Linked DNA regions of Homo sapiens: region 1 is linked to region 2. The links come from fine-mapping of genetic effects on gene expression. Tissue or cell type: whole blood. Region 2 holds a variant in brackets; the other region holds the start of a gene. All regions are shown on one strand. Distances are between the middles of the regions. Region 1 holds the start of DOCK10 (dedicator of cytokinesis 10). Region 2 overlaps DOCK10 (dedicator of cytokinesis 10).

Region 1 (15,099 bases), 62 kb after region 2:
CTTCCTCAAATGATTGCTCTGAGAATTAAATAGAATGCTTGACACTGTGCCAGGCACATCGTACATTCTTAACAAATTATTTACCTTAATGCATTCATTATTGCTTTCTTTTTCTATGCTAGGCCTTAGAGAATCTGGTTGTGGAGAAAAAGCCAAAACCTATACATGTTGACTCATTCTTTCAGCCTTTGATCCTTCTAGAAGTTTTCTAGAACCTACTTGTGGTTACTATTCATTTTCAAAGTTATTTCTCCAATGCCCTTGAGAAATAAAAAACATTGGCAGACACACAAGTAACATTCAAACTTGATCTTGTAAACTAAGTTTGTGTTGACTTCTTCTCCAGGCAAAGAGGTCAAGGGACTTTCCTCATATGAAAACATAACCGTGTGATTTCTGCTAAACCATAAACACCCTTGTCATAAAGGACTCTGTCCAGAACAACAAACAACAAAACAAAGCAAAAAACACAAACAAAATAAAAAGACTGTGCTGTGAATGCTAAACAACCAGGCCCTTATATTGCATATTGCTTTTAAATCTGGATAGCGACAGCAAAACAAGTGCTTCACTTTCATTTGCTATCACTTTCTGCATCTAGCATATGACTTTTGGGAAATTCCAGTATCCCCCACTCAATTAAAAAAAAAAAAATCCCTCCTACTCTCAACTCTTGAATGCCACCAAGTTCAGAGGGGAGAAAATTCTTCCTTCTAGGAATTCCTCACGCTCACGTAAACATGTTTACATATTCATTACTTCTCAATCAAAGCTCTTTGGTTGGTCAAAGGTTCCGCTTCTTACTCAAAGCTCTCTAAAATATCAAAAGTGGTATTATTGGAGGTCTGAAGAGTTAGGAAACATCAAAGAAGGGAAATGGAATTTACTGAAATAAATACTTTCCCCTCTTTACCCCTTACACTTTCTGGGTGGGTAGGAAGGGAGAAAACCTCCTGGTTAAGTATAATCACTTCCGGCAGGATGCTTTCTCTTTAAAATGAGTTAATAACAAAATTAGATACAATTAAAAAGGAGTTGCAAAGGAGTTTTTGTCTAATAATAGAGTAAATATAAAGGCATTAAAAGTGCATGTAACTAAAGTGGTAAGCTCCAGTCTAGGAAATAGATGAACGGCTTTGGGCTAAAACTGACCAAATGATTATTTGATCTCTAGTAAATGCTTCCTTTCCATCATCTGACTCTATGTAGATCTCATCCTTCTGGTTATCTGAAGCCTTCCATTGCACTAACCCACCTAAAACATTCCATAAATAAAACTCCATTTCTCTCAAAGTGACAGATCTGATGGGGTGTTTGCAAAAAGTTTACCTATACTTTTTTTAAAAAGTCTTTTCTTTTGAAATGCTCTCAAATACAATATATATGCAGAAAAGTGCACAAATCCTAAATGTATATCTTAATGAATTATAGAAAGCTATCTAAATGAACTAATTCATGCTAGGGTACAGATACACTTCATTCATTTTAAAAGATGAGCTTCTTATCAAAAAGGAATTTCTAATTAGTGGCATTACAACTTTGAAGCCAACATGGTATGTATATTCAACCAATGTAATAAAACACTCCAGTTCTGATATGAGACAAATGTTTCTAATCATTTTCGGGCTGAAATTCTACCCTAGAGAAGCTTGCTTTATGAAACAATCAGGAATGAGATTTCAGGAAATTATGAGAACTTGACATGATCCTTTGAATTGATCTTCGAATGAGTTGTCTTTCATTTATTTTCTATGGGGAATTTTAGGATAATGAAGGAGCAAATATTTCTCCTTTTGAAATGTATGTTTTTGTTCATTACTGTTCTTGGGAGGGGTGAAGAATAAGGTGGTTCGTGTCTAGGAGTCTGCAAGTACATAAGCCTACTACATACAGTGCTTTGGGTAAAAACTGACATCAAATTTGCTTTGGCATACACCTGTATTGTCCTCAACAACTGCCTTAAAATTTGGCTTTCCCAGTCATTACCCTCACTCAGCATCTCCTTGATCTCTCCTCTCCATATTCAAACACATTTTGAAGGCTTCCTGTCTTCTCTCTCTCTCTCTCTCTCTCTCTCTGTATACACACCCCATTCTCAGGGAAGAAAACTATCTTGTTAACCTGACAACCTTACCTAAACTTATTGGAGAGAGCAGAATTCAAACCCTATGGCAATCTTTTGGCAATGTCCTGGAGGATTTGTGTCCCCAAGACAGGGATTTCAGAAAGGGGAATATACAAATCTAGCAGTAAGATACTTTTTCTCAGCAGGAGTTTCTAGTCTCTTTCAAATACCTTGCAATAGAGGATGGCTTGCTCCAATACACACCCGCGGTTCTATGAGTCTGTACTGAAGTCGGATATCCATAATATTTTCCCCAACATCCTATCATTTTTCTCCCTTGACAACCATGTTTTGAGAACTTGAAGCAACAGATATGAAGAGTCTTAAGGGATTGCATCAATGTACGCTAAGATTAGTCTCTACCACATAGTCCAATGACACGGTTTTAGGTTCAGAAGGGATGCTCTACACCCACAGAATCCCACCGAGTTCAGGTGCCAGCTCAGAGAACTCATCACCTTCCTGTTTCCCTTCAAGAGTTAACTGATGGGATAGTATGCAAAGCACATGCGTTCTTGCTGCCAAAATAGCAGCCAAAACTGCCTGCCTAGATGTGTAAGATCCCATGAAATGTCTTGGCAAAAGCTAGTTTAGGAGTGTTGGCCAAGGTGCTGAAGCGAAGCAAGGGGAGTCAGGACCACCTTTGCCACTGAATCTCCCCTCCCCCACCTCTTTTTAAAGACAGCGAGCTTATTCATTTTGACAAGATACCCTAGGATTTCAAATCTGACATAATTTTGGAGAAAGCAGTGCGTGTGTGTGTGTGTGTGTGTGTGTGTGTGTGTGGTGTAGAAGGGTATCTGGGATACATAATCTTTATAGAAATTCTAGTGCCACAAAAATTCTAGGAGGATCTACATTTAAAAAAACACACAACAGTTTAAGCTGTTTATTCCAATTGAACGCTGTGTGTTTCCATCAGATCCTCAGTGAGATTCAGTCCAATGAGTCAATTGCAAAATAAAGTTTTTGTCAAGGGAATGGCAGAAAATGACAAAACCACAATTCTGAATGATCATTCAAAAGTAAAAAGTACTTTCTACTACTGTGTGGAGATTTTCTTATCTCTACTTTTACTCGAATTGAATCTTTTCTTCTAATGTTCTTTTGAACAGTTTGTCTTTGGTGTCCTGAAAATGTGCACGCTGATAGCAGTACCACATGCTGTCCCTGGCACAGAGTGAGCTAACAGTTGAACCACCTCTGGGTAACTGCGGACTGCAGCTAGTGTAAGTGCAAGAGAAGGCACCCTGGCCACCAATTCGTTTCACACTCCAATCACCCCCGCCCGCTCTACACCCCCTGGGCACCCGATGCCTCTTCCCTCTGCCAGGCAATTTGCTTCCGTTCTGTTCAACTTTCCGACCTCTGGCTTTAGAGAATAGTCCTGGCTGTGGGAACTGGCTCTGGGAAGCTTTTGGCGCCCTCCTCATTGGTGACTGGCAAGAGTAACACTTTCACACTCTTAAAAAGAGCCGTTTAGTTCCTAATGATATTTTCTGGCAAAAAAGAAAATGAAACACACAACCCGGATTCCGGTCCACCAAACGCAGGCCAAGAGCGCGGCTGCTGAGCCCCGGTCTTGCTGTGAGGCTGTTGTTCCCACTCGCTTCCCGTTTCCACTAGAGTTGATTTGTCTCTTGCCACCTCTCCCCGGCAGTGTGGACCTACTGCAACGCAGGAACATCTGGGTTGGTATGGATAGGATCCTAGCATCAGATGCTGGCTGCTGCCCCAGGGACTTCCCGCGGAAATCACCCAGCACTTAGAAGCCGTTTCAATAAGGAAGTAACCAGTAAAGCATTGCTGGTGGGAGAACCCCGCGAAACATCTTAGAAAAATATCAGAAACCGCTGGAGACCTAATGACCCACGTCTCCTCCAGCCTGTGTTCCTCAGCCCTTTCTGGAGGAGTATTAAGTGGTTTGTGGGTTTTTACCCTGCGGTGGGAGGGCTGTTCCAAGTACATCTATTTCTGCGATAGTTAACGTCGGGGGGCCCCAGCTCTAACCAGGGCGAGGACCACGGACTGCATCCCTCTCTCTCAGCGCACTGGTCTGTTTACTGGAGGGTGAGAGGGACGCGCAGACCTCCGGACTCAGGGGTTCTGTTCTGTAGATCCCCCCACCCCACCCGGGGTCTCTGGCACTCGTATCACTTAGCACCAGTGTGACTGGCGGTGCATTCCGGCCCCCTCGCGCCCCATTAAAGCCCCTGCACATCCTCTCCCACGCTGCGCTTCTGCTACCCACGCAGCTGCTCCTCTGAGCGTCCCGCGTGCACAAACGCGCCCCCGGTCCTTACGCGTCGGTGGCGCTGCCTCGCTGAGGTGGCGCCGGGGGAGCCCGCAGAGGCGGCGGGGGAGGGAGTGCGGAGGAGAGGACCCGTGAGCTGCGGGGACCTGGGCCCGCCGAGCTTTTGGGGAAGCTGGGCTCCGTTCCCCCCGGGCGCCTGGGGCGCGCGGGAAGGCGCGGAGGACGCGCCGCACTCACCCGCTGCTGCTGCCGGCTGCTGACTGCCACCGCGGCGGCGGACGCGGCGCTGTGCCGGAGCTCGGCCGCCTGCCCAGGTCTCAACAGGCTCCGGGTGAACCTGCGGGTCCGCTCACCGGCCATCGCCGGTCACGCCAATCGCGCCGCGGGCCCGGGGCGCGCCTCCCGCCGGTCTTCCCCGCGCCAACCTTCTCTATCCACCCGCCGTTCAGGAAGCGGAACTCGGAGCCTTCCCCCCCCTCTTCCTCGCTCAACTCGCAAGAGGCGGGTTTTTCTCTCTTGCACCCCCACTCTTCCCACCCCCTTCCCTCCTCTGAAGCTTCTCGAAGACTTTCCAAACTCTGCGCTCCCCCGGGCGCGCGCGGCCAACTCGGCTGGCGGCCGGGCCCTGCAGCGGCGCATCTGGAGCGGGCGTCGCGGGACGCGTGTGGGGCGGCTCCTGCCCGCGCCGCCCACACGGGCTCAGCTGGCCGGCCGGGGCTGTCCACGCCGCCCGGGGGAACTGCAGGCTGCGGGGGAGGGCGGGGGGCGGCCGCCGAGGGGCTCCGGGCGGGGCCTGTCCAAGGCCGTCGCCTGTCCAAGGCCGTCAGCCTCATTTGGAGGTTGCTGGGAGAGTTGGAGCCCTGGATGCATTTGCCGTTTAGACTTCTATTTTCTGGGTCCGGCTAGTGGGTGGGGGCCAAGCTCGGTTCGCCCTTCCACCCTCGGGAAGGGGTCAGAGGCTTATTAAAGATCTGGTGGCTGGGATCCCAGCAGCATCGCCCAAGCCAGCGTTTGGAAGGCTCCCTTGCCAGAAGTCCATGTTCAGGGCCTTGGAATAAGCTTCCCCATTCATTCACTCCTTCAATGAGTATTTATTAAGCGCCTACTATATGCCAGCTCACACTGTTCTGGAAACTGAGGATACGGAGAGGAACTTAGCAACTACACTTTAAGGCTGTGTAGAGCTGATAGGTTTTTTCGGGGTAGGGGTGGGAGACAGCAAGTAACCAAGCGAACAAATAAACAAATACAGAGAAATCAAGGAGACAGTTTAAGCTACTAACACGAACTCAAAACCAATAAATCAGCGTTCTGGGGGTAAGAGACTTTGGGTGGCATTAGGATGAGTAGGCAAGAACCAACTGGCAGGGTTACTATGTAGGGTGGTCAGGTCGGGGGTGGATTTCACAGTTATGCTGTCTCTGCTCTTCTCTTGCCCATACCCATCTAGCCTGCACTTTGCCTCTAGATAGGTATCTGATGAAAGCCTTCTAAGAAGTCTCTTCCTGGGTCATACCCAGGGTGGTTCTGCAATTCAGTGTTGGACTGGATGGGGGGCAGAGAAGTTCTGGCCCCTGGATACTGGTCTGGAGAGATCTGGGACAGCCTTTCCAAGTGGTCTGGTTTTTTCTTAACAGCTTTTTATGGATCCATGACCCTGCCACTTTCTAAAGCCAATGATAGATAGTTATAACACAAGGTCACATTTGGGTATAAAGAATTCTTAAGCAATTGATAAATGCACTTTAGTCAGCTCTTTGTTAGCCAGGATTCAATTAGCCAGAGATGCTGTTTGGGGATCATTTCAGCACATTCTAGAAATCATAACAGGCGTAAGAGGGTAAGAGGCTCTGGCAGATTTGGGAAGTGCCATTTGAAACATCATCTAGTTCCAAGACAGCCTGCATAACAAATAACTGTACCTGTATTGTATGCTTTCATATTGGTACTCAGTGTGGGAGCAACACCACCTTTCAGGGTAAGCAAAGTAGGTGGTTGCCTCTGTGTTGGTACATGAAGATCTCTGTAGGAACAGCTCCCTCCAACCGTACCCTTTCCCAGGTGTACCCAGACTTGATGTCTCTGAATGCATATTCCCCTGAGAGAACCGATTAAGCACATTTGAATTAACTTGAGCTTCCCAAGAAGAGGTACCTAATCTTTGTCTCTGGTTTCAAAACACTGCCTGGCACACGTAGGCACTCAATAAATATCAGCTTATGGATGACTTTACAAAGGGCTCAGATGGGCTAGTGCAGTCAGAGAGCTGGGTGTGCCTGACACAGAGAAAGTCAGAGAGGAGAAGAGAAAGGTGTGCTGAAAGGGAAGGCTATAGTAATCGATAATACATCAGAATGTGCCCTGCACAAGGCAACTCGCTGATCCAAAACACTGAGTAGCACACACAACCCAATCTCCAACAATATCGAGTAACAGAAAGTCACTTACAATTTGTTAATCGTACAATTAATACACCTAATTGTACTTTTTCCAGCTTCAGGAGGTCACCCAGAGCACTGGTGTGAGAGGGTTTAACGAACAAATGCCTGTTTGCCCAATCCATACCCTGTATGATGTTAATTCCGTGGGTCACACCGAGTAGGAAGGCAGGTTTAAGTGTTGATAGCATACCTCTCACACCCAGGGCATGTCAATAATGATACTTCAGAGACTCTCCTCCGCCCTTATGATCATGTAGGTTTTAGTTAAGCTTCCTTCGGGCACCAAGGAGAGAGAGCTGAGTGTCGACCCTTGCCCCTGCCCTTGTAGCATAAATACACTTATTTTTTGCTACAGAAATGTAACTTCAGGTCTGCTGATTTGGGACCTTGACTCTGCTGGCCACCCATCTCTCAGATCCCTGGAGAAACTCGGCTCAGATGCTTGGTAAACGCAAATCTGTGCACATATCATGAAGTATGTTAAGTTTCTTGGAACAGCTAGTTAATAAGAGAATCTTCAAGGGCTTGTAATATTGTAGAATAGTGGTTAAAATACATGCTCTGAAGTCCAATTACCTTTGTTCAAATCCCAACTCCGTAAGCCTCAGTTTCTTACCTACGCAATCAAGATAGTAGTTGTGTGGCTGGGCTGCTGAGAGAGTTACTTAAATTAGTGTAAATTTCTTCAAAAGTGACTAGCACATGGACTTCAATAACTGTTATTATCCCTACACTTGCAGATAACTCAGGAATTAAACAAGCTTCCATGTCTTTTCATATATTTGATTCTCATATGAACCCTGTTATTATTCCTACACTTGCAGATAACTCAGGAATTAAACAAACTTCCATGTCTTTTCATATATTTGATTCTCATATGAACCTTTGCGAGAAGAAGGATGGATGGGTATTATCTTGGAGCCAAGGCTGGGGATTTAATGAGCATTCTGGAGACAATGTCTTAACCCAAATCAATGACTATGGAATTTCATGAACAAGAATAACAATAACAATGTAATCCTTATAGTATTAACCCACTATTGTGTAACAATATGTAACTATAACATAATGTGCTACAGTTTGGATAATAGTTTCACATATATTATTTCACTTGAATTTTAATATATTATAAAATGGGGTTGTTCAGCCCATCTATCCCATGTCTCGCTGTCTAAAATTGTAGATGGATCATTAAAAGAGCTCCCCAAATGCATGGAACAGACATTTTAGAAACCAGTGGTTGCAAATTTTGCTAAATGTTCTCAAATCAAGATTGTACTAATACATAGAATGCAGAGGCTGCAATCAAGTTTTATCAGTGTTTGAATTTGCCAATTCATTTGAGTTGTCACGAGACAAGCCATTCACTGAGGAAGAAATAACCCCACTCAACAGACACTTATGGAATATCAACTATGGACAGGATCTCACACTATGCTAGGAGGGCACAGAGCTGAGCAAAATGTTTCTGTCTCCAAAAAGCTCAATTTCATACAGAGGAACTGACTTAAAAAACATTACTGGTGCTCATGGGTGAGTGGGTAGGGGGTGAGAGTAAGATTTTGGAGATGGAGCGTCTATGGACCCATGTTAACATTTTATACTTCATATTTTTATGACTTTTTAAATAAGATTGAAAAAATTGGTCTCAATAACATGGAATTTTCTAGCCTTCTCTTTCTCTTCCCCTCTTTACTTACCTCCTTTTCTCTCTTCTTCTTTCTTCCTTTCTCTCTTTGTCCTTTTCTTTCCTTCCCTCACTGCTTCCTCCCTTCCTTCCCTTCTTCCTTCTTTAAAATTTGATACTCTTCTTATTCATACTAAAGCATCACTTACTTTCATAAGATGTAGTAAGCACTGATTACTTGACCTGGTACAATTCAAAGCTTTATAGAATTAAGAAACCACAACTGTCAATAGCCCTCTCCTGTCATCCTTCTACATGACTGTGTCCATGTCTTATCAGCAAGGAAAGACTTCAGAAATTTTTTCATAGCAGTAATAAGTATAAATGTGAAAACTGTACTATATTTTCCAAAATACCTACAGACATAAGAGTGTGTAAATTTAGTTATTAGTCTAGGAGTGTGACTCTTGGACGAATAACTAAATTTGCACACTAAATGACTAAATTAGATCTTGATACCCAGAGATTGTAGGAGGTGGGGCAAATACTCCTTGCATCCATTCCATGGCATTGAGCCACCCTTCCTAAGTGATACCAAGCCCAGTGTACCCTGGGTGTCAGCCTGGGCATCACCATGTCCCAGTGCTTAACTATATCAAGTTTGTCTAGTGTTGCACCATTTACAAAGCACACTCATTATTTCATTTGATTCTCAATCATTCATTCTAAAATGCACATGGGACATGTGATATTGCCCCCACCGTACATAAGGGAAAGCTGGGAGAGAATTTGATAGCATGGAAATTAGGAGGGAAATTTTGCTAATTAATAAAAAAGAAAGATACAGAAATAGGAATACAAATGCCCAAGTTAAAATGGTTTTCTGATATTATAGGAAGCCTTCCTTTATTTTATTTTATTAATTATTATTATTATTTATTATACTTTAAATTCTGGGATACATGTGCAGAACGTGCAGGTTTGTTACATAGGTATACATGTGCCATGTTGGTTTGCTGCACCCATCAACCTGTCTTCCAGGTTTTCTGTGTGATTTTCCTCTCCCTGTGTCCATGTGTTCTCATTGTTCAACTTCCACTTATGAGTGAGAATATGTGGTGTTTGGTTTTCTGTTTCTGTGTTAGTTTGCTGAGAATGATGGTTTCCGGCTTCATCCATGTCCCTGCAAATGACATGAACTCATTCTTTTTTATGGGGGCACAGTATTCCATGGTGTATATGTGCCACATTTTCTTTATCCAGTCTATCACTGATGGGCATTTGGGTTGGTTCTAGTTCTTTGCTATTGTAAATAGTGCTGCAGTAAACATATGTGTGCATGTGTCTTTACAGTAGAATGATTTATAATCCTTTGGGTATATACCCAGCAATGGGATTGCTGGGTCAAATGGAATTTCTTGTTCTAGATCCTTGAGGAATCACCACACTGTCTTCCACAATGGTTGAACTAATTTACACTCCCAACAGTGTAAAAGCATTCCTATTTCTCCACATCCTCTCCAGCATCTGTTGTTTCCTGACATTTTAACGATCGCTATTCTAACTGGAGTGAGATGGTATCTCATTGTGGTTTTGATTTGCATTTCTCTAATGACCAGTGATGAATGAGCTTTTTTTCATATGTTTGTTGGCCACATAAATGTTTTGTTTTGAGAAGTGTCTGTTCATATCCGTCACCGACTTTCTGATGGGGTTGTTTCTTTTTTTCTTGTAAATTTGTTTAAATTCCTTGTAGATTCTGGATATTAGACCTTTGTCAGATGGATAGATTGCAAAAATTTTCTCCCATTCTGTAGGTTGCCTATTCACTCTGATGATAGTTTCTTTTGTTGTGCAGAAACTCTTTAATTAGATCCCATTTGTCAATTTTGAGGAAACCTTCCTTTATTAAGGGAAAAGTATATTTGTCTTATTTTTACAATAGAAATGGAGGTCCACAGAGGCAGGTGACTTGCCTTGATAATGTAGTAGTGTAATTGGGTGGGTAAATTAAAATAATTTTGTTTATTGAAAGTATAATGCTTGTCATATTCAGCAATAAGTAAAGTATCAGAATTGTAAACCAAATTGTTGGAAAAATACTTTGCCACAGCACATCTTGATTCCTAACACTAAGAAAAAAATAAGCAATTGAATGTACATCCAGTGGTGTTTTGGCTGAATACTATTTCATAAGATACATTTTTCCTAACCTTACCAAGAGAATATTAAAGAGCTACAAGAAAAATATGGTTTGAAAGGTATGATATTAATGGGGTCTATTAGTTCTTGAGTTCTTGCTGGAGCTGAAGCCATCTGAAAAAGCTGAGTGCCTCCATGTTGTCTATGGAAAAAGGTATTAAATCTGATATGTATTTCTTACTGTGTTTAGAAGACAGATCACTTCTTGGGAGAAAATTACACTTAAAGTAATATGATTTGAATCTGAAACACTGCCAGGCTGTATATCGTGCCAATACGCATGCAGTGTGGCATTCTATCACTATTAGTCCACCAGAATCCTTGGGGCATAGTGCAAACAGAGGTACATGATTGAAAGAAAAGAATGACTATTTTTAACTGGCAACCAGTCTCTAGGTTCTCTATCCTACTTTGGCTTTTATTTGTAGTCTAGCCTAAGGGAATTAATGTCCCAGGATCTTTTTTTCCTCCATCTGTAAAAGTTACTCAGAGGCAGATTTTGGCTCCATATGAAGAAGGAAAAGATTAGTAAATATTAGATGGGAACATTTTTATTTCTTACGTGCATAATTAAACCCTTGTACTTACTTTATTTTTCCAGACATTTTAATGTTCTCCTCCATTTTTCCAGTGTGGTGATTACTCCTGATATCTACTAGTCTCACAGAAATAGAACTTGATATGTAAAAAAGTTCTATCATAATTATTTCTTTTGTTTCTTAAAGAGAGCAACATAAAAATAAATCTGTTGTCTAATATTTCATTGAGAATTTTGCATCTACACATATGAGTGACATTGGTCTACCTTTTTTATTTTTGGAACTAATGTGACATTTTGCCAGGGAGATTTTTCTGGCTTCCTTAATTAAATTGGAGAGCTTTCTGCCTCTTTCCATGGTCTACAGCAATTTAAATAACATTGGGCTTATTCGTTCTCCAATGGTTGGATACAATCCAGCTGTGGAACCATCTGGTTTTGGTACATTTTTTAATAGGAGATCTATAATCATTTTCAAATCCCTTGTATGGTAATTGGTCTATTCAAGATTTTTCACATCTTTTATTTCTTAATAATTTATATTTTACTAATAATATCATCCCATTTTTCTAGATTTTAGAAATGTTTGCCTTAGAATTGCATGTAACACTGAATGATATGTGTTCCCTTCTGTTATGTATTCTTTAAAATTTTATTATAAATATTTTAAACATGGCTAAAAAGTATTACAAAGAACACAATGAATACTCATAAATCCTCCAGGTATATTAAACTATTTTAAATTGGAGAAATCATGACCTTTCATCTCTACATAGCTCAGCATTTATCTCCAAAAAGTAAGAATATTCTCCTACATAACTGCAATATTATTTAACACATTGAATTCAACAACAATTCCTTCATTTTTTTTGTCATCCAGGTCATATTTGAATTTCTCCAATTGTCCCCCAAATAACTTTTTCTCAGCTGATTTGATCAATCTCAAATTTAATCTTGAAGATGCATTGCTTTGGTTGTCATGTCTCTTAAGACTTTAATTTGAAACCATTCTCCTCCCATTTTTGATAATGACTTTGACTTTTCGAAGAGACCAAGCCAGTTATTCCAAGTTTTGTTATCTTTTGCTAACATTTAATTTTTTGTTGTTGTTGTTTTTTTGAGATAGAGTCTCGCTCTGTTGCCCAGGCTGGAGTGCACTGACGCGAACTCGGCTCACTGCAACCTCCGCCTCCCAGGTTCAAGCGATTCTCCTGCCTCAGCCTCCTGAGTAGCTGAGATTACAGGTGCGCGCCATCATGCCCAGCTAATTTTTGTATTTTTAGTAGAGACACGGTTTTGCCATATTGGCCAGGCTTGTCTCAAACTCCTGACCTCGTGATCTGCCCACCTCAGCCTCCCAAAGTGCTAGGATTACAGGCGTGAGCCACCGTGCCAAGCCTAATTTGTTGCTTTTTATCTGAAGCCTTTTAAAATACATACTTTAAAAAAATTATTTTTTTTAAATTTGCACATAACAATTATACAATGCACTGTGATCAGATCAGGGTGATTAGCATATTCATTGTCTCAAACATTTGCCATTTCTTTGTGTTAAGAATAATCAATATTCTCTTTCTAGCTATTTGAAACTGTATAGTAACATTATTGTTAACTATAGTCATTCTACAGTGTTATGAAACACTAGAACTTATTCCTTTTATCTAGCTGTAATTTTCTATCCTTTAACAAATGACTCCCTTTCTCTCCTTCTCCCTACCCTTCCTAGCCTCTAGCATTTTTTGTTCTAATGAGATCAACTCTTTTAAGCTACCACATATGAGTGAGAACATGAGTGGTTTAATTTTCTGTTCCTGGCTTATTTCAGTTAACATAATATCTTCTAGTTCCATCCATGTTACCTTGAATGACAGGATTTTATTCTTTGTATGGCCGAATAGTATTCTATGGTGTATATATAGCACTTTTTCTTTATCCATTCATCTGTTGTCAGACACCTGGGTTGATTCCGTATCTTGGCTATTGTGAACAGTGTTGCAATAAACATGGGGGTACAAATGCTTTTCATATAATGATTTCCTTTCCTTTGGATAAATGCCTAGTAGTAGGATTGCTGGATCATACGGTAGTTCTATTTGTAGTTTTTGAGGAGCTTTTATACTCTTCTTCACAGGGCTTTATTACTTTACATTCTTAAACAACAATGTATAAGAGTTCACTTTTCTCCACATCCTTGCCAGCATTTGTTATTTTTTTGTCTTTTTGATAATAACCATACTAATTGGAGTGAGATGATACCTCATCGTGGTTTTGATTTGCATTTCCCTGATAATTAGTGGAGTTAAGTATTCTTTCATATATTTTTTGACCATACGTATGTCTTCTTTTGAGAAATGTCTGTTCAGATCATTTGCCCATGTTTTAAGTCAGATTATTTGTTTTTTGTTGTAGAAATGTTTGAATGCCTTGTATATTCTGGATTTAGCCCTCTGTTGGTTTGAGAACATTTTCTCCCAATCTGTAGGTTGTGTTTTCACTCTGTTGATTGTTTCCTTTGCTGTGCAGAAAGTTTTTAGATTTTAAAATCCTTCCTCAATTAGTGGCTAATCGCTTTTCTCATTCTTAATCTCGAATATTTTTACTTCCTCCTTTTTTCCTTAATTGGGTTCTCAAGAGGGATTATCTACTGTAGTAGTCTCCTCAAGGAACTTGTAGTTGTTTTATTAGTTTGACTTTGTACTGTTTATTTTTTTCATTAATAAGCTATTTTCTTAACCAAGAGAGGAATATCAGATGCTATAGAAGAAAATATAGTACTATTTAAATACATAAAATCTTAAATCTTCATTATGGCAATATTAATAAAATGCCAGTATATAAATGACATAATTTAGTACATGTTTGTAATACAAATAAACAAGAAAAGCCAATATCTCTATTATATAAAGATCTCTTACTAACGGACAAGAAAAATATAAAAAATGAGCAAATTAGTAAAAAAGAAAGTCTAATACAAAAAGCCAAATTAAAAGAAAACAGAATAAATCATGCTGCTATAAAGACACATGCACACGTATGTTTATTGTGGCACTATTCCAAATAGCAAAGACTTGGAACCAACCCAAATGTCCATCAATGATAGACTGGATTAAGAAAATGTGGCACATATACACCATGGAATACTATGCAGCCATAAAAAAGGATGAGTTCATGTCCTTTATAGGGACATGGATGAAGCTGGAAACCATCATTCTGAGCAAACTATCGCAAGGACAGAAAGCCAAACACCACATGTTCTCACTCATGGGTGGGAATTGAACAATGAGAACACATGGACACAGGGTACAGAACATCACACACTGGGGCCTGCTGGGGGGTGGGGAGATGGGGGAGGGATAGCATTAGGGGATATACCTAATGTAAAGGATGAGTTAACAGGTGCAGCATACCAACATGGCACATGTATACATATGTAACAAACCTTCATGTTGTGCACATGTACCCTAGAACTTAAAGTGAAAAAAAAAAAACAGAAAATCTCAATCTCAAATTCTGTGCCCATTTTAAATTGTATTGTCAGTCTTTTTCTTACTGGTTTTTTAAATTTAATTTGTATTTTTTGGATACAAGTATTTCATCAAATATATATGCATATATGATTTGTTGTTTTTAATATTGCACGTTGCTCAATAATTAGAAGTCATAGCATTATTTTGCTGTTTTCCTTACATATTCAGAGAACGTTATACCAAATGTATACTTATCAAATGTGATTGTTTATCTTTTAAAAGAGATAGAGGAAGCATTTTTCCTAATAGTCTCAGAAAGAAATACATTAACACTTCCAAAGTTTTAGATGAATGCTACAAAGTTTATAAGGCTTCTGAAGTTTTTCAAAACATTAATTTCATACCCTGATCAAGTGAGCTGAAGACAGTTGGAGAAAACATATTT
Region 2 (8,000 bases):
TCCCACACTTTATATTCAATCCATAGGCAAACTCTATTGGTTCTACTTTTGAAATCTATCCAGAATCTGACTACTTTTCACAGCCTCAACAACTACCATCCAGGTCTTTGGGATCATTGCAACCGCTTCCTAATTAATGGTCTCCCTGCTTTGACCCTTGACCCTCTATGGCCAGAGATCCTGTTACTTCCCTGCTTCAGGACCTCCCAGTTAGTGGGGTTATAGTTAATATAACACTCACTAGTTACCAGTCAGTGTTTTAAGCAATTTGCACCTATTAACATACTGAATTCTCACAATAACCTTACACCGGTAGGTACTGTTACTTTTTACATTTTATCAATGAAGACACAAAGACACAAGGAGGACAAGTCATTCATCAAGATCACACAGCTAGTGAGTGGCAGAGATACAACTCAAACCCTGACATTCTGGCTCCATGGCCCAGGCTCTTAACCTCTGGGCCTGCTTCTTCCAGTGGCTTCCTTTCTCACTTGGAAAAAGCCTAGGTCTTCCTGATAGCTGTGTGCCTGACATGATCTGACCCCATTGCCTCCCTGACCTTGCCTTCTACGACCCACTCCTTGGCTCATCTGGACACACTGGCCTCCTTTCTGTTCTTCTAACACTCCAGGCTTCTTCCCACATTAGGGCCTTTCGCCTTGGCGGGTCCTTCTGCATAAGGCATTTCCCTGCTGAAAGTGGCATGGGTCATTCCCTTGACTCCTTAGGGTCTTTCCTCAAATGCCACTTTTCAGTTAGGATGTCCCTGATCACATCCCTATTGAACGTCTTACCGTTACATCCCGGCACTTTTCTAAGCACTTAACACTTACTTTATCAAACCCATACAACTGCTCTAATTTGATAAAATTTCTATCCTCATTTTATAGGAGAGGAAAAGAGACACAGAGATGTTAAACAGCATGCCCAAGGTCACACAGCTGATAAGTGATGAAGTCAGGATTCCAACCTAGGTGTTCTGGCTCCAGAGTCTGTGATCTTATAAAAAAAAAAAATCAATATACAATACTTGGTGACTAATGGGCAGTGGGAAAGTGAATAAAAAAGAAAAATCAAAGTTTGCTCAGAAGTTTAGAGCCAGAGTAAGAAGACGATTAGCCAATATAAGAACATCACACTGGAGGAGGAGAAGGGGTGGACAGTTTAGATTACCATCTTCCAGAGCCATGTTTCTCAAAGTGTCATCCAAAGTACTCCTTCGTCAGAATCAACTGGGAGTGCTTGCTACAAGAGCAGGTTCCTGAGCTCCACTCCACACCTTCTCAAACAGAGTCTTTGGGGTCAAGAGCTCAAGGATTTGCATGAATGAAAACTCCTAGGTGATTTTGAAATACAATAAATTTTCAAACCACCATCTTGGAAAACAGAAAATATTTTCATTGGCTAAAGTTTGTAGACTAAGTGTCACAATTGTAGTATAGCATTTCCATAACAACAACACTGGCAAAATGTTCTATCACCTTCAAACTTTGCAACTTGGGGTAGGGACTTTTGATGGGTTTGTTCATTGGCGGATTCCAAGTGCCTGAACCAGTGCTTGGACCATAGTGGGCTGGCAATAAACCATTAGCGAGTGTGTGAATTTTGGAGTGGCCCAGAAGAAATTTTCAAGATGCACAATGACTTTGTATGAGCACATTTTACTCAGAGTAGTCCAAGATTTCCATCAGACTTCTTACATAAATTCAGTTTATCGGTTATCATTATTTCCTTAGAAGTGTGAACAGACTGGAAAATACACTGGCTTTTGGAATCATTGCTCTAAGTGTGATTCGGGGAACTGGTATTTAGCAGCTGTGTAATGTTAAGATATTCAACCTTTCTGAGCCTTTATTTTCCTCATTAGTATATTCTTATCACCTTATTTAATATCAATAAAGGTATTATATAAATCAAAAGGATCCTTGGAAAAATATGACTAGGTGAATAGTTTTTAAAAATTTCTCAGTTATTTTGAGGTATAAGGTTTTTTTTTGCAAATTTCTAGCTGTGAAATTTTATAGACTAACAAAATTAGAAAAATAAGACTTACTGGTATAGCATGAGCACTACACATAGTTAAAGAGTGTGTTAATGTTATTAACAAGAGTTAAACTTGGAAAACAAAGATTTCTTTGACATTTGAACCTATTTCAAATCCTTTAAAATTTAATTTGTGAAAACTTATGGGAATAATAAACATGAAATTATTCCTATTTACTGTTTCCTTTTAGAAATAATCACAGCCCCCTAGTTCAAGAATAATATTGCTTTTTGAAAATAAAATATTGATTTGTTGAAGAAGTAGGCAAGTAATGTTATAGTTTAGTATTCTGTCACTCAGAGGCATAGCCCAAGCCAAATGACTTTCATTTAAGAACTTTTAGAGTAACAGGTATTTTTCATTCATTATTTACTACATCCTTGATATCTCAACATTGAAATCTAAGAGAAAAAAGTCGATTATGCTGAAGCCACCTAGACTTCAATGTCTCCTCAATTTTGGAAACTTTACCATACCATCTATTCTAATTTTAGTGACTAAGCAGATCTCTTTTTAAACTTAAAGAAAGAAAGAACTCTACCCTCAAATTTATTCTTGCTGATCAAACAGATGCACAAAAAAGGAAAACATTGTTTATTACAATTAAAGCACAGACAAAAATGTAATTTGACAAGTGGCAAGAAAAAGCTTTCTAATGAAAACACTATGCATTCTACAAAATTCTTAATTCTTTATTCTAATATTGTGCCTAAGTTAGGCATTCTGGAAAGGCATTTCCTTTGCAGAGTCAGAAAGAAAAGCCCCAAATATCCTGAAGTTAAAGATCCAACTATCAGCATCTATACAACTTCAATGGTTACATGTGATTTTTAAAAAACGCCCATTTTGGGCTCTTCTTTCAAATTATAGTTATAAAATAAAATCCACTCACTTAAACCAAACTCCAAATTTTTCTCTTATTTTCTGCACAAAAGGTAATAACAACATGCAAACCATGAGGCAGAAGAGAATTTCTGGTAGACCGAGAAGCTGTACAGTTTCATGACAGATACAAGAAGAAGAAAATATGCTCTTTGAATGATAGAAATAGTTCCGAAAGATTTTCCCCAAACAGTACTTCAGAGTAGTAAACTCTAGGTCACACATGCCTTTATCTAACGCTAAACACCAAAACCCCTAAATTGTAACCTCTCTATAATAACAGTTCAATCCACTGAGGCTGCTTTACCACGGATACCATACCATTATGATGAGGGTTCTGGGTCTATTCATTTCATCGTCACTTTCCAGAGGCAAAATTTCGTGGGATGGTTCCTCTTGGCGTCGTCTACAAATGTGTGGACAGCTCCTCTGGACCACAGAACGAAAAGCTTGAAGCAGAACAATGCTGGCAGTGCAGCCCATCGCTGCATCCTGGAGCCTACAAAATAACTTCTATGTTGATGCTATGTTTGCAAAACAGTGGCTCCTTGTCCCTGAAAACAGCCTACACTGCAGCTGCAGCCGGCTCACTCTCCAATCACTTCCTTGAGCTCTGATCATCTGATCATGGCCAAATAGCTTGGATGCAGAGATGGGAAAGATTTGATCCACGGAAACTGAACACACTCAGGAATATTAGAGCACTGCGCTCAGAAAGTATTTCTCAATTCACATCGAGAGCATGTTTCCTGTTCATTACAATGAAGCTCTTCGATTCTCCTTTCAGAGGTCTGAATAAATATGTCTTTCCCATTCAGACACACAAATAAATTACTTTTTCAAATCACACAACTGAAAACCTGACTTTACACTCACAATTTTTCCTGAGGTATCATGTAAGGAGTGAAAATGATTTTTTTTTTTATAAACGTAAACACTTCCTGAAGGAAATTTTGCTGGACATCTCACTAAGTGATTGAGGTTTTACTTTTCATAGCTCATAAGTTCCAGAAATGAAACTGGCTTATCTGAAACATAGAGTTCACTAGATCAAGATGATTTAACCAAAGTATGCACGCATTAACCAGCCCTGAGTGAGAGACACCAGTGTTCCCCTGTGATTTCCTCTCAATAGTATGGTTGTTCTGTTCCCACACATGCAGTTCTGCAGCCTAATACAATTTTATATTTACATACGCGGCTTGCAGGGCTGAAAATATCTCTATTACTGAGGTCACTGAGCAAGCTCCGCCAAGCTGACCTCTTAGAAAAAGCAGCTGTAAAGCATTTTAACATCCTATCAATAAGAATTCAAGGCTCTGGGAAGGACTTTGAGGTCTTTGGTAGTTAAGAGTCTGGTATTCCCTGACTCCTGCGAGACTAGTCACTTAGGAAAGAACCAAAGAGAGATGCTTAGAAATCACGTGTCCTTTCTGGAATGGCCTCAACATCTAATGGTATAGTGAAAGGGAATAGGGCAGCTGGAGCTGCTTGCGCTAAAAATATCTCATGGAAAATAGATTTTGCTTACAAATGAGGAAAGTATGAAATCCCCAATAGAATTCAATCTTGAGATCTTTCTGCCAAGCTAATTCTTCCAGTGTAACTCTTGGAGATTCAAAGAAAAAAAAATGTTTTCTGTGGTTTCTGGGCTCCTCGGCGTGAAGGGTGCTGCAGGAAGTTTGAGGAAGGATTGTTTTGCTGTAACGTGTGGCCGCCCCAGCCTCAGTGAGGTTGCTTTCGCGGAAGCATCTAGCATGATGCTCAAACAGGCATTAATTGCTCAG[T/A]AATCTGTCACAACACAGCATCGTTTTAATTGGTATGTTCACCCCAGAGAAGTAAAACATGCTTCTTTTTCTTTTAAGAAGTACTGGCTGCCAGTAGTTTTTCATCTCCCTCTGTTTTGAGCAAACATATTTTAGTGCTGCTGGAAAAAGAAGAAAAAAAATGCTAATGATGCTGGCAAGTCCCCTAACTCCCTCTGGACATTTGTCAGACTGCCCGGGTGCTAATCTAAACCATTTTTACTCTAAACAACTAGGGCATTTACTGAAGAGAGGCTACGACTTAGCCTGTCTGGCTTGTGTGTATTGAATATCTATATCTAATGGTGTCCACTTGAGACAAAGGGCAGAGTGGGCTCCTCTGTTTGTGAATGTGTCTTTTCAAATAGGACAGTTCCTCTGGGCTCCCTGTATGGCAGTGCCCACCCCCACCCACTTACTCCCATCCCCCAGGACATATCTCTCTCCAATCACTTCCGTAGGTTGTGATCATCTGCTCATGGCTGCGTAGTTTGCAGGCAGCAAGCTGCTAGCTGGAAACGCTTAAATAGTAAACCAGCCCCAGTTAGAAACTGGAGAGAGAAGACAGATCCCTCCGCTATCCACCATGGGCTTGGCAGGCACGATGCACTTCACATCCTAAACTCCTCTCTAACCATCTCTCTCTAAATCTGGCTGACCTCTGCGGTGGCTTTTGGAATCAGATGTTTTGGCAGATGCCAAAGTCTTTAGGGAGACAAATGAGATGCTTTCTAGCTATTACAGTCCCGCCTTTATCGATCCCCTCTGCCTCTGAGGAATTCACCCCTATTATTGACGGGCTGCTGACAGGCTCTGAATATTCTCTCTCTCATTCTGTCTCCTCTCTCTGTTAGCCTCTGTTATCAAGCTAAAGGAATGTCCAAGGATTAGTTTCTTTGGAATTCAATACACACAACCATTATCCAGTGGACAAGAAATAAAAAAGATGAAACGCAGGAAAGAAGAGTTGAGTATGTTCTCCAACATTTTCTCATGAAAGATTCCAAACATGTAGGAAAGTTGCAAGAAAGGGTTTGGGTTCTGAGCTCTATGTTTTACATAGCAAATTAAGCTAGAGATTGGGTTGGGTTGTGGGAGACACAGAAACCTACCCAGAGGCCATGTTTCTGTCATATGACACACAGGAAACTTTTTTTTTTTTTTTTTTTGAGGTTGAGTTTCGCTCTATCGCCCAGGCTGGAGTACAGTGGCAGGATCTTGGCTCACTGCAACCTCGGCCTCCCAGGTTCAAGTGATTCTCGTGCCTCAGCCTCCTGAGTGGCTAGGACTATAGGTGTGCACCACCACACCTGGCTAATTTTTGATAAGCAGGAAATATTTTAAGATTAGGTATAAACTCTTCAGCAGGTGTCTGCTATTTTTATTTGAACTATTAATAAGATGAATCATTAATTTGGCCTCCAAACATCAAATGTGCACGGCCTTACTAATAAATGACCTTTGGAGATTCTTGTTCACTCTCTTGTCTGCCTTCTTCCCCTAGTAGGGTCTTATCTTATGATTCAATAAGGTATTTATTAAACCTAAAATGCTAGAAACAAGATTTTTAAAGTAATTGTCTTAGATTAGGAAATAATGTCACTAACAATTCGTAAGGCTAAATTTTCCAAAGAAGTGTTGGAAGCTAGATTTCATCCTGGGTCATTAATTATATATTATATTATATCATATTATTGTATGTTATTTCATATATAAAAATTTATTCAGCACTTATGAAATCTTAAATTTGTGTACAATAAAAAATGTTCTTGTTTCAAAGCAGAGATAGCCGTGTTGTGTAGACTGTAGTAGCCTTAATGCTCATAGGAAATGGAAGGAAGGATGGAGGGAGATGTTTTTAACATCTTATTGACCAGGGAGAAAGACATGTAGGAAGAAAAAGTAAGGCATTTCAAGAGAGTAAAAGGAGGTTAAGGAGGAAAAAAAAAAAGAGAAAAACGAATGAAGGGACTAACAAAAACCACCAAAATCGTACTGAATCCTAGGAGGATACTGGACTCTGCCTCAGGGGTCCACCTACCCAGCTGTAGACTGCCCATCCTTCTTCAACAAATCTTGACTAATGAATTTAGTTTTCAGAGCACTTTTCTAAAATCTTTTGGCCTAAGAATGATTTGGCTGTACATGTTGATATATCCACCACTGGGATAATATGTCCAAAGACCTTTTTACAATGGGCAAGGAAATACACATTTAATTTAAATAAATAATGTCCATTGAAAGTGTTGGACCTTCCCAGCTTTGTTAAATTATGTAAGAGCCGTGTGTCTAAATCTATATATCTAATCTATTGCAAAATACCTACGTCTGTTTTGACCGTGTCAAATTGGACTGTGCTTTGGCATGATGGAGGTGAAGCCCACATTCTTCTCCTCCCCAAAAGACCTGGTGCATCTGAGTCTTCTGACACATAATGCTGACCTTGGATGGGGAGAGGTTTTCTGCTATCCTCTATAAGGCATCAAGTACACGGAAAACTACTGCTGCTAACAGATGCTTGTCTTGTAAAAACAAAGATGAGCTTAGATAAAATATTTGAGAAATAAAAAATTGAGAAATGAAGCCTAACAAAATCAGCCTCAAGGGCTTTTTGGATATCCCTGATGCTATGCAGCTTGGTTTCATTGCTTCACACACTGTGAGTTTCTGGTGGGTCCATTTCAGGATCCTAATAAGGTCATGATCAGAACTTATTTATAAAGATAAATTTATGGAAAGGCTAAGAGTTTAAGGGTAGAATTATGTCCCCCCAAAATTCATATGTTGGAACCCTGAGCGCCAATGTGACTCTGTTTTGAGATAGAGCTTCTAAGAAAGTAATAAGGTTTCATGAGGTCATAAGGGTGGGGCCTTCATCCTCTAGAACTAATGTCCTTATAAGAAGAGGAATAAACACCAGCTCTCTCTCTCTCTCTCTCTGTCTTCATGTGTGCACAAGGGAAAGGCCATATGAAGCCACAGTGAGAAGGTGCTATTTGCAAGATAGGAAGAGAGTCTTCACCAGAAAACAACCCTAAGAGCACCTTGATCTTCAACTTCCAGCCTCTAAAGCTGTGAGAAGATGAGTTTCTATTGTTTAAACCACCTAGTCTGTGGTGTTTTGCTAGAGCAGCCCTAGTACCCTAGCAGGCCAATACAAGGACCTTGCCTGGGAAAACCATATTCTAACAGTGAAGCCTCAAGGGAATCATCACCTCCTCGGAGAAAGGCTCTTAATTCCCCCAGGTTGAATTAACCCCCGCCTT

What was found. PIP is the estimated chance that this variant, and not a neighbour inherited with it, causes the effect.
Region 1: DOCK10 starts here. The variant in region 2 is fine-mapped to the expression of DOCK10 in whole blood (TOPMed, PIP above 0.99).

The regions. Positions count from the first base shown.
Region 1 is chr2:225,037,636-225,052,734 of GRCh38, forward strand. It overlaps DOCK10 (dedicator of cytokinesis 10), which reads right to left and starts at 4,833. Exons shown (of 56, transcript NM_014689.3): 1 at 4,617-4,833. The coding sequence starts at 4,739. RefSeq lists an enhancer at 3,540-3,879 and silencers at 4,430-4,669, 4,860-5,229.
Region 2 is chr2:224,978,957-224,986,956 of GRCh38, forward strand. All of the region lies in intron 1 of DOCK10 (dedicator of cytokinesis 10), which reads right to left. Among named protein-coding and RNA genes, the nearest start is that of MIR4439, 28 kb to the right of the region's middle. The variant T/A (reference allele first, on the strand shown) is at 4,717.